Homo sapiens: one gene and its partner. The protein of the gene in region 2 interacts with the protein of the main gene of each other region in a biochemical or structural test. Each region holds a gene or a part of one and is shown on either strand. Other genes may lie near its edges.

Region 1 (7,035 bases), on a different chromosome or scaffold from region 2:
CCACTATAATTGTTCAAGCCAAGTCCAATGGTCAATCTATCTGTAAGTAGCATTGAACACAATTAATCCCTTCCTTCTCATTCAAATATTTTCTCCATCTGGCTTCTAGAATATATTATCCCACTAATTCTGCTCCTACCTCACTGATACATTTCTTCTGAGTCTTCCTTGATAGTTCATCCTAAACGCCTTAACTTTTCAATGTCAGAGTACCCTAACTTTCAATCCTTGCAACACTATCTACACTCCTGGCTTTGGTACCTTCATCCTGTATCATAGCTTTAAACACCATCTATATGTTTTTAAGCTCCTACATTTTTATCTCTAGTGTGGACCTCTCCCATGGATGCCAGACTTGTACATGCAACTGTCTACTGGACAACTCGATATTTAACAGGCACTGGCCACACTCGGTATATTAAAAATGGAACTCATAATCTTCCCTTATCCCATTAAACCTGCTCCAATGAGTTTCTGCTGACCCAGTTAGAAAGCAACAGAAAAGATGAAGTTGTCAAGATCTTTGGCTTCATTCTTTCTGTATTCTTCCCTTGCTCCATACTGCACATGCAATCCTGTAAACTTGATTTTAAAACATATCTAGAGTCCAATTGCCTCACCTCCATCACTAACATCCTGATTCATGCTAACATCATTTTTCATCTGGTTCATGGCAATAACCTTATCTCTCTTTGCTTTTGGCCCTTGCCTTCCCAGCTTTTTAAAACAGTATAAAGAGTGATTCTCTTAAAAAATACACCAGATACCACCATAAAAATACATAAAAAAATATACCATATACCATGGTTTAATTGAAATTTCTATTTGGGAGCTCTGAATGGTGCCATAAACTTGTGTTCAAAACCAAGACCACAATCTTCCCTCCCTATCTGCTCCTTCTCCAGTTTTCCTTCCATCTCAGTAAAAGGCATCACTATCCACCCAGTGGCTTATGACTGAAAGATGAGATTCAGTCTTTGTGTCTACCTCATAAACATCTGTCACCTCTGTTCAGTTGGCTTTCTCCACTGCTACCACTAATCCAAGCCACCATTGTCTATCTCCTGGATTGTAATAATAGGATGTTAAACTGGTCTGCCCGCATTTACTCTCACCCTGGCCCCCCTCTCTCTGAATCATTAGCTAAAGTGAACTTTGAAAACTGCAAAGATAATGAAGTCTCTCTTTTGCTTAAAAACTCTTCAATGGTTTACCCTTGCTCTGAGAATAAATACCGAGTTAGTCTATTAGACTTGTATGATTTGACCCCTTCCCTCACTCCTTGTATCCCAAGTCAGGCACTTTGGGCTTCTTTCAGTTCCTTCAAAGCACCCTGTTTCCCTCCACTCAAGACCTTTAAATAAGCTGTTCCCTTTCTGTGAAACACATTCCTCAGAACCCTGCTACCACCCTGATCCTACTCCTTTTGCCCAGTCTTTATATGTCAGCTCAACTACAAATACCTTCAAGATATCAGACTTCAAATACCTTCAAGATATCAGATATCATATTTCCTTGCTACATGCTCTTCTGTTCCCTATAGTACTTCTTTGTAGAAGTCATCATATTCTATAAGTATTTCCATGTATGAATAGTTCTTTAACATATATCTCTATGACTGGGGAGACGATGTTCTCAGTGATGGAAATCACTAACACTCTACACATGGTGCACAGTACCATCTAACAAGTGCAAAGTGGGCATATACATCTACAATTATATTCCTCTGTGACATATTTTGGTAGGTTTTTGGTTCCTAGTTATTGATAAACAGAAGTTTATCATCATTCACTTATCTAAAGTGCTACTTTAATGATTAAAATATAGATAAAAGAGAAAAAAATCCCATATTTCTTTTTCAGATATCAGAATCGATCTACACAAAATAAACAGACCCCAAATTCTCTTATCTCAGAGAGGTACACTTAGGAAATCGGAAGTATTTAGGTGGATTCTTATAGATTTGCTTTGAGTTAGCTACTGCACTAATATTGATAGATAAGTACCCAATTCTCCAGTTGGAGAGTTTCAAGAGGGGGCCTCAGAATTTGTTTCAAAATTCTGTAGTTAGCAGCAATTGGTGCATGCAGAATCTGCTCCTGCTCTGTCCAATAGTGTCATGTACACAATAGCTTCCAAACGTTTATTAAATTGACTAGGACATATTTAAATGATTTTTTTAAACAAAATTGTTAACATTCTACTTACCAGCCCTTAATGGCCTAGGAACACCTCCAACAAAAATTGTTTTTCGGGGATCCAAAGGCTGAGAACCATCCATTACAAAATCACTATCACTTAAATTCCAAGGACGTATTTGAACCTATGAAGAAAATTACATTGGGTCTTACTCCCTTGATGTCTTATGAGAATTTTCTGTTTGTTTGTTTTTGCCAGTTAATAGTGATTCTTTTATTGCTTAAAAATTTGTATAGTGGGATCTGGAAACAAATTATTTTTATAACTTTTGTTGATCTAGATACTATAAATCCGCAGTCTCTGACCTTTTTGGCACCAGGGACCAATTTTGAGGAAGACAGTTTTTCTAAGGATGGAGGTGGTGGAGGATGGTTTCGAGATCAAAGTGTTCCACCTCAGATCATCAGGCATTAGATTCTCATAAAGAACATGCAACCTAGATCACTCGCACGTGCAGTTCACAATAGGGTTCGCATTCCTATGAGAATAGAGTGCCATCTCTGATCTGACAGGAGGCAGAGCTCAGGCAGTAATGCTGGCTTGCCTGCCACTCATCTCCTGCTGTGTGGCCTGGTTCCTAAAAGATCATGGACCACCAGTACTGGTCCACTGCCCAGGGGTTGGGGACTCCTGCTATAAATTATCTGGATGTTTCAAAAACTAAAACTCAACATGGTAGTTTAATTGTTCTTTTATTAATTAACAATCATTTCAAAACAATTTTTGAAAAATTTGCATTTGTAGCCTGAAGTTCATGTGGTATTTACTTACTGGTTTGTCCTTGATAGTAGGGCTAGAAACACACAGATAGAGTTTTCCATCTTCTTCAATACAAGCATCAATGAGTGCCTGAACTGAGCTCTCTTCTTGAAAGAGAAGAAATGCATAGCCTGGAATAACCATTAAAGATGAGGCAATATGTCAAGCCAAGTGATTTTACTCCAAATTTCAGTACTATTTAGAAAATACATGCTTTTGAAAAAAAAAAACAAACTATCAAATAGGATGAAAAACCATTTACCTTCTACAAGAGAACACAATATCTTATGTAATACACATTAAAACAGATACTCAGTAAAGCAATTGGCTACTTTATATAGAACACTTGCTATCAGATACTGTATTAACTTACATGCATTAGTATTTGATTCTCAAAAGTCTATGAAATATTATTCCTGTTTTACAGAAGAAAAAAATCAAAGTACCACCAAAGTCAGTCTCATAGTAAATGGTTGAATAATTTCAAACCGAGGTCAGCCCCAAGGTCTCCCATGCGCTTTCTAGTAGTGATACTACCTTCTTAAAGAGCTTGGCAGAATTAACCAGGTGAGTATATCTGGAGCTAGAGTTTGCTATAAATGCCCTCAGGTTAATCCAAGTTCTAGACTTTTAGACTGGAACGCACTTGGAAAGGTCCAGGAAATCCCCTAAGCAGAGGAAACATTCCACAGTCTCATGAAAACTTCCCAATGATACTAAGAAAGCTACAGTAGGAAGGCTGGAATGAAACATGTTCCTTAATAAAACATGGGTCAGATGGATCAAAACTTTTAAATCAAGCCTCAACTTGGAAAGCAGTGGAATACATTTTTCAAACTGTCTGGAGACTATCTAGACTTGTAAACAACCAATTGTCAATCTTTAATAAAAAATCATGTATCCAGCAGACAGAATAGACTACATTATAAAAAGAAGGCATCAAAATTTACACTGCAAGTTTACTATTATGTGATTATTCCCAGCAGGTGATAGCTATAAATGATCTATCCATTACCTTGGCAAGATTTCTATGCGAACAAATGTACAGCATTTTAATCTAGTCCCAGTACAAAGCAGACATCAGGCAAGCCATGTATGTCTGTTCCATCGTATAATGGGAAATGTAAGGTCATGTTTTACTGAAGTCAGAAAACTCAGCTTATTGTCAACCATAGCTTTATGCCACAAAAGTCTGATGTGACACTAAAGTACTTCATTTTAATAAAATAAAAATACCTGTTTGCATAAAAAATACCTGGAGCCATTTCACCTTATATAAATGATTTCACCCTATATAAATACAAACTTCCAAAGGTAAGATTACACAGGATTAAAAAACATGTCTTAGATTTTTTACACTGCTGGAAACAATTTCAATATTCTTGAAAATAATGAAGATTTTTTTAAGGCTTTAATTTTGATACAAAATAATAATCTGGGAACTACAAGTATTTTGTAATAATTAAAAGGATATAAGACCAATTTACTAAAATAGTATATTAAATTCAATATTTTAATGTTGGCCAATTTTCATAATTTTTGATATTAATATTTTAATATTGCTTAATTTAAAGTAATACTCTAAATTCAATATCTTTAATATTGCTCAATTTTTGTTATTATTAGGGAATGTTTATATTACAAAAATTAAGCCATATCAGGTAAATTATGACTTACCTGATGCAAGTCATTAGATATTAAAATATTCTTAACAAAAACATACTACATAATAGCTTCTTTCGAATTTGTTAAAGCAAGCTAATAATCACTTAAGGTGAAGGTTATTCACTGCAAAGGAAACTTACGTACATGTGTGGCTTAGCATCTAAGGGACTCTAGTCACTGCTGTAATTACAAGGTAGCTTCACCCACTGGATGCTTCTATACCAGTGTTTTCCAAACCATGGAAAATGCTGAATTACAGAAATAATAAAATTGCTTGAAAGAACAAGGTTTGGGGATACTGGTCTTTGGAAATGTCTACATTTAACTGTAATTGTACCAAAAAAACTATGATTTGCCAGTGCCAATTTTATTTTTTCGATTAGAGAAACTAAATACTGCAAAACCACAATAACGATAGCAACAATACCAATAAAGACAACAACTATTCTGTTTCATTAAATATGTTCCATCCCATCTTTCTAGGCTTAAAGTACACCATCCTTGTAAGTGAACAAGTAGCTCATGCAAAAATCTGCATCTTTCTCCATCCAAACAATTTCTAATTCCTTTTTAAAATTCTATTTCCATTCCTGCCTGGAACGCTGTTCAAGTGCTTTTTATCTATCTATATACAATACCTTAGATTAATTCCAAACCTCTCAGTGAAGCTTTCCCCCATCTACTTGAAGTAATTTCTCCACCCTATAGTATTTTTTGTTATCTCATTTATTAGGCAGTTAACAATCCGTGAATTATTGAGAATATGAACATTCACAAAGGTGAATAAAGACACTATTTTACAGACCATTGAAAGAAACTGACATTAATAAAATAATTACAAATGTTTAAAGTTGTAAAAATGTAATACTGCAACTGTGATGAGTGCTAGGAGTGAAAGACACAGACAGCACTAGGAGTTGGGCAGGAGGAACTGACCTCATTTGGTAGATCCTCAATGTTTTCTGTGATCAACTTACACTTAAGCTTGAGATACAAAAGATAAGTAGGGAATATATAAAGAGACCTAAGGAAGAGATACAATCAGTCTAGAGAGTATCATACATAAAAGCACTGAGGCTGGAGAGAACAAGGCCAGTTTGTGGGACTGGAAGGAAACAAGCAGCAATAGTAGAAGAAGCTAGAAAGAAGGCAAGGCCAGGCAGAAGGAATGCATTTTTGCTTTTATCCTAAAAATAAGAGAAACCATTAAAGGGTTTATGCAGGTAAGTAAGGAATAGCACCATCCAATGAGTTTTCAAAGACTGCTGTGACTGGACGATAGGAGAAAACTGAAGAGGGCTAGAGATGTGGAGAGACTAGAAAGACAGCTGAAGCAGTCCAGGCAAGTGATGATGGTAGCTTAGTCGGGAACATTACAAAATAACTCAATACTCTTGAGTATTCAATAAAAATGGCATTTATAAAGTAAACTTTATGAAATGGCAAGAGAGTAAAACTATGGACAACACTAAAACTAAGCTAATAAATAAACATCTCTATCTATGTGGAGATAATTTCCTGTCTATACCAAGGTTTTGTGACCTCCAATGAACTCCAGACTACATGGAGAGAGGTAGATAGCTTTAATCAGATTCTCATAGAGGCCTGGGATCCAGAATCCCTACTCAAAAGATGCTCTTGATTCCCTACATACATATAGAATCTGCAAGTATTAAAAAAACATTGCATTACTCCATTTATCTAAAAAACTATGTGAACTATTAGTGAAGGTTCTATAATTCTCAATGGCAGAAAGTAGATATGACTCATATAATTCATCACCAGAAACCTGTACCTAGTTTTTATGTGCTAATAACTTCTTTATCATGCTTCATTTCCCAGAGTCAAAATCAAACCATTTAACAGTTCTATTGGGGTCTTTTCTCCAGGCTTGACAATTCACTAAGTCATGAAACTGAATAGTATGTGTGGTGTGCTTTTTCTAAAATTATATTTCAGCAATGTTTAAAGTAAAGTCTTAATCTTTGAACCTCCCCTCTTTTTTTTATTCATTTCAGAGAACCTTCCATTAGCAATTCTGACTAGCTGAATTAATGTTCAAGACTCCTTTCTCCTCTCTTCCTCTTGTTATTGGGGGCAGGATATACTTCCTCTCCCCACAGATGGTGACTTGATCATGCGACTTGCATGTGAAGGTTAGCACAATTTGTAATTCTTGTCCTGTGGTGATCAGCCACGGTGTCTTCCTAGCAATAACTGACTAACATAACTAAGCATCTTCCTCAAGTTTTACATCTTTATATAATTGAAAAAAAAAATAGACCCAACTAGCTACTTTGTCTTTTATCTAAATTATTTATTCATCAACAGTTGGTAATAATTTCTACTGCTCTGCTGTTATCTAGAACATTTAATGTAAATCTGATATTTCAACTGTTCATAAATTTATAT
Region 2 (4,216 bases):
GCACAGGCTGGAGTGCAGTGGCACGATCTCTGCTCACTGCAAGCTCCGCCTCCCGGGTTCACACCATTCTCCTGCCTCAGCCTCCAGAGTAGCTGGGACTACAAGCGCCCGCCACCACGCCCGGCTAATTTTTTGTATTTTTAGTAGAGACGGGGTTTCACCGTATTAGCGAGGTTGGTCTCGATCTCCTGACCTCGTGATCCGCCCGCCTTGGCCTCCCAAAGTGCTGGGATTACAAGCGTGAGCCACCGCGCCCAGCCTAATTTTTGTATTTTTAGTAGAGATGGGTTTTCACCATGTTGGCCAGGCTGGTCTCAAACTCTTGACCTCAGGTGATCCACCTACGTTGGCCTCCCAAAGTGCTGGGATGACAGGCGTGAGCTACCGTGCCCGGTCACTGAGTTCTTATTGGGCAATAATGATTGGCTTAACCAAAGGCCTGGCAGCCTTTGTACCAAACTGCTAACACTGTTTACCTCTAGGGAGGGAGACTATGGAAAATGAGGAGGATACTTTCATTTTTATTTTATATCGTGAGGTATTGTTTGGATTGTTACAATGAACTTGCATTTCTTTTGTAATGAAGAAAATAATACAGAGGAAATAACAACAACTAAACCTTTGGCCTGGATTATCATCGGCTGGAAATTCATGTTGGATGCAAGTTTTTATTGATAACAAGTTATTTTTTGGTTTATATGCAAAAAATGTTCATTGAATGCCTCCTATTTGGCTGGCACTGCCTAGGCACTTTCACAGGTATTTCATCCTAATCCTCACAACAGCCCTATGAGGTAATCATTGGTCCCAGTTTACAGAAGCCTTGGGTGGGAGATTATTGCTTGATATACTTCTATTTGCCACACATTTTTGTTGGCAAGACGTTCGTATCGGCTGGTGATTCACTGGTCAAGAGCTCTCATTGGCCAGGAGTTCCTATTTGTTGCTGTAAGATTCAAATAATCAAAATACTAGAATTTTTCCCCCACAAGAATGATGGGACCAATGGCATAAGAGTAAAGGAAGGAGAGTCAGTGGGTCTCTCCCTTTGAAGCACCATTTGAGTTTGCATTGGTCAGCCCCACACAGGTGGGCGGGATGAGGTGGTGGAGGAGGAGACGCGGTGGTTATAAGTCTTCTCGCTTCAGTAGGATGAGCTTCCTCACGAGCGCTGTGATCTGGGGTCTGACCTCCTCCACTGACACAGTTGGGTCCCAAGCCCCTACCACCTTTCCATCTGGGGCTACTAGGTACTTCCAGAAGTTCCAGGTGGGCTCCTTCCCAGAAGTCTCTAGAGAAAAAGGAAGGAGAGCAAAGCGTGCTACCCTGCGTACCCTCTCCTGGGACTTCACTCTCAGTGTCCATCTTTCCCTGGTGGCAGCTAATCCTGATGCCCAGTCCACACCCCAGACCACTCCAACCAGAATCTCTGAGGGTGAGGCTCAGGCATCAGCATTTTTCAAAAGCCCCCTGGGAGATTCCAAAGTGGGGCCGAGGTTGAGAACGACTGCTGTAGGATTCTGTGACGTGCTTGATAAAGTGGTATCAAATCCTCCTTTATTAATGACTTCGAACTACTGAATAGTCTACACCCTATTCTCTAGTTCAGTTTTAATGGTTTCCAAATGTTAGTCCATGGACTGGTTTCATCAGAATCACTGGGGGTCAGGGGAGTGCTTAAAATAAAGATTCTTGGGCCCTGCTTCAGTAGGTCTCAGCCTTGTGCATTTTTAAGAGCTCCCCAGGTGCTTCTAAAAGCAAGGCCGGGTTTGATCTATAACTGTGAGAACTGGGAAGGAACTAATAAAAGAACACAGAGAAAAAAATCAACATTAGGACTGAGCCACAGAGCAAAACACAAACCTGCCGCAGTAAGGGACCTTTTGTTTGCTGCACTCTTGCTTCTCATTTACTCCTCCAGGTGAATGGGTTGCAGGGTGGGGTGGTGGCAAGGGATACAAAGGCCACCAGAAGCACGGAATCAGAAAAGGCAAAAATGGGGCCTCCAGAGGAGAAGGCCTGAGGGAAGAAATGGTCAGAATGGCAAGCTTAGCCCATGAGCCCATTCTGTGGCTCTGAGGCTTCTGCAGCTGGAGAAGGGATCTTGTTCTCAAATACTAAGATCTGGTATTTTAGCTTAGAAGGTCTCCCTCCATGGCCTACAGACTCCGCCACTGACTCAGGGTGAAGATGCCTGTCTACTATCTTGGTCAGCTTTCTCCAAGCAGGTGGCCTCCCCTGTCTATGCCTTGGTTTCTCCATCATATGTCCATAAACTCATCTAGTTCACACTGACTTAAATGTCTCCTTCTAGGAGCCCCTGAATGTGAAAACAGGATCCCAGAAAAGTCCAAAAGAGTGACTTCTGAGGGACAAGTGAGAGGCAGCAGGTATGGAGATATTCTTAGGCAGGAATACCCCTCAGCTTCTACCTGCCTCCACTCTCCTCAAAGATTAGTGCTGGAACAAAGCATCAGTCCACCTGAGATGATCAGGAAGGGGAAGGGGCCCCAGGTCACCCAACCAGCCAGTGGCTTCTGCTGCCCAGGGAGCCATGGCCTCAGCCAGCTAAGGGAGGTGTGAGGGGATGAAGAGACCAGGACTTACGGGCCAGGTACTTGAAGGCAGGATGGGCACCAGTACCGGTGACTGCAATCTTGCTAAACATGGGGAATGAGACACTGTAGGTGCGGCGGGCAAAGCTCTCAATCTCCTTGTTGCTGTCAGGCTCCTGTTGGCCAAACTGGTTGCAGGGGAAGGCGAGCACGTTAAAGTGGTGGGGGCCCAGGTCTCGCTGCAGCTGCTGCAGGGCTCGGTAGTGCTGGTCTGTGAAGCCGCACTCGCTGGCCACATTCACCACCAGGGACACCTGTATGACAGAAACAAAACAAAACAAAGCCCAGACAAGCCAGTGAAGAGGCATGAACCTGTACATGCCCTGACACATCCACATATGTGACTCCCTCAACAGTTAATACTGCCTCACACATACAAGAACACTGTGTACACATATGTAAATGTGTGTCCAGTGCTCTCACACATACACAAACACATGCACACAGACAGGCACATATGAAATCAAACATTCAGGAGCTTACAGATGTGTGCACACATACATGAACATCTGTGAACATAAGTATACAACATACATAAATAGGTATGCACATGCACCACGATACAAACATGTTAGCAAACACCACACATGCCCACACACACAGCACATCCACAGACTGGGGCACACATACTGGTGAGCACATACTGAGAACTGATAAGAGGGGGTACAAAGGGAGACCTGGGCTCAATTTTTGGCTCAGTCAGCTAGCACTCGCCACTCTGCACTGTGTCAGTCTCCCTTCTAGAATGTGAACCTACTGAGGGCAGGAGCTATGTCCACTTCATCTCTGGGCCTGGCATATGAAAAAGTCTCAGTAAGTTTCAGATGAATGAGTAAGTGTGCACACAAACACAAACGCCTGCATGGGAACATAGACACAGGTTTTCTTGAGAAAAGAACCCTCATAACTCCAGGGCAATCACCTTTTTGTCCCCCTCCTCTCCAGAGAACTAACACCACTTTTGTTGTTGTTGCTGCTGGAGCAATGGCATAATCATAACAGGACATCCCCCCAACCGTTTGCAGTCTCAAACTTCTGAGCTGAAGTGATCCTCCCACCTCAGCCTCTCAAATAGCTAGGACTACAGGCACGTGCCATCACACCTGGCTAATTTTTTAATTTTTACTTTTGGTAGAGACAGTTCTCGCCATGTTGTCCAGGCTGGACTCAAAAACTCTTAGCCTCAGGCAATCCTACCAGCTAAGCCTCTCAAAGTGCTAGGATTACAGTCATGAACCACCATGCCCAGCCTACCACTTTCTTTTATCATTAGACTAATCCTTAAATTTATTAAAGCCTTTAGGCAATAAATACAAAGCTGGCTAATGGAACTTGATTATAAGACTTTGATTAGAATTTTGGCTCAAATGCTATGTTTTTAGCTTCTAGGTATATATTATTAATGGATTTAAAACCCTAGCCGGTGCCTAGGCAGCCTAGCCCTATCCTCCATAATTGACATTTGGGTCAGATAATTCTTTGTTGTCGGGGGGATGTCCTGTTTATTTATTATCAGATGTTTGGCAGCATCCCTGGCCTCTACCCACTAGATGCCCAGTCTTGACAATCAACAATGTCTCCAGACATTGCCAATTGTGCCC

Evidence for each region. The genes of interacting proteins can lie anywhere in the genome.
Region 1: the proteins of GPX7 (region 2) and CPEB2 form a complex in vitro, tested with the Homo sapiens proteins (one study listed by BioGRID).

The regions. Positions count from the first base shown.
Region 1 is NC_000004.12:15,054,475-15,061,509, reverse strand, and holds part of CPEB2 (cytoplasmic polyadenylation element-binding protein 2), read right to left. Parts: intron 3,090-7,035; coding exon 2,971-3,089; intron 2,324-2,970; coding exon 2,209-2,323; intron 1-2,208. UniProt on the Homo sapiens protein: May play a role in translational regulation of stored mRNAs in transcriptionally inactive haploid spermatids. Binds to poly(U) RNA oligomers. Required for cell cycle progression, specifically for the transition from metaphase to anaphase.
Region 2 is NC_000001.11:52,605,337-52,609,552, reverse strand, and holds the end of GPX7 (glutathione peroxidase 7 precursor), read right to left. Parts: intron 2,870-4,216; coding exon 2,608-2,869; intron 1,292-2,607; coding exon 1,128-1,291; 3' UTR 502-1,127; downstream 1-501. UniProt on the Homo sapiens protein: It protects esophageal epithelia from hydrogen peroxide-induced oxidative stress. It suppresses acidic bile acid-induced reactive oxygen species (ROS) and protects against oxidative DNA damage and double-strand breaks.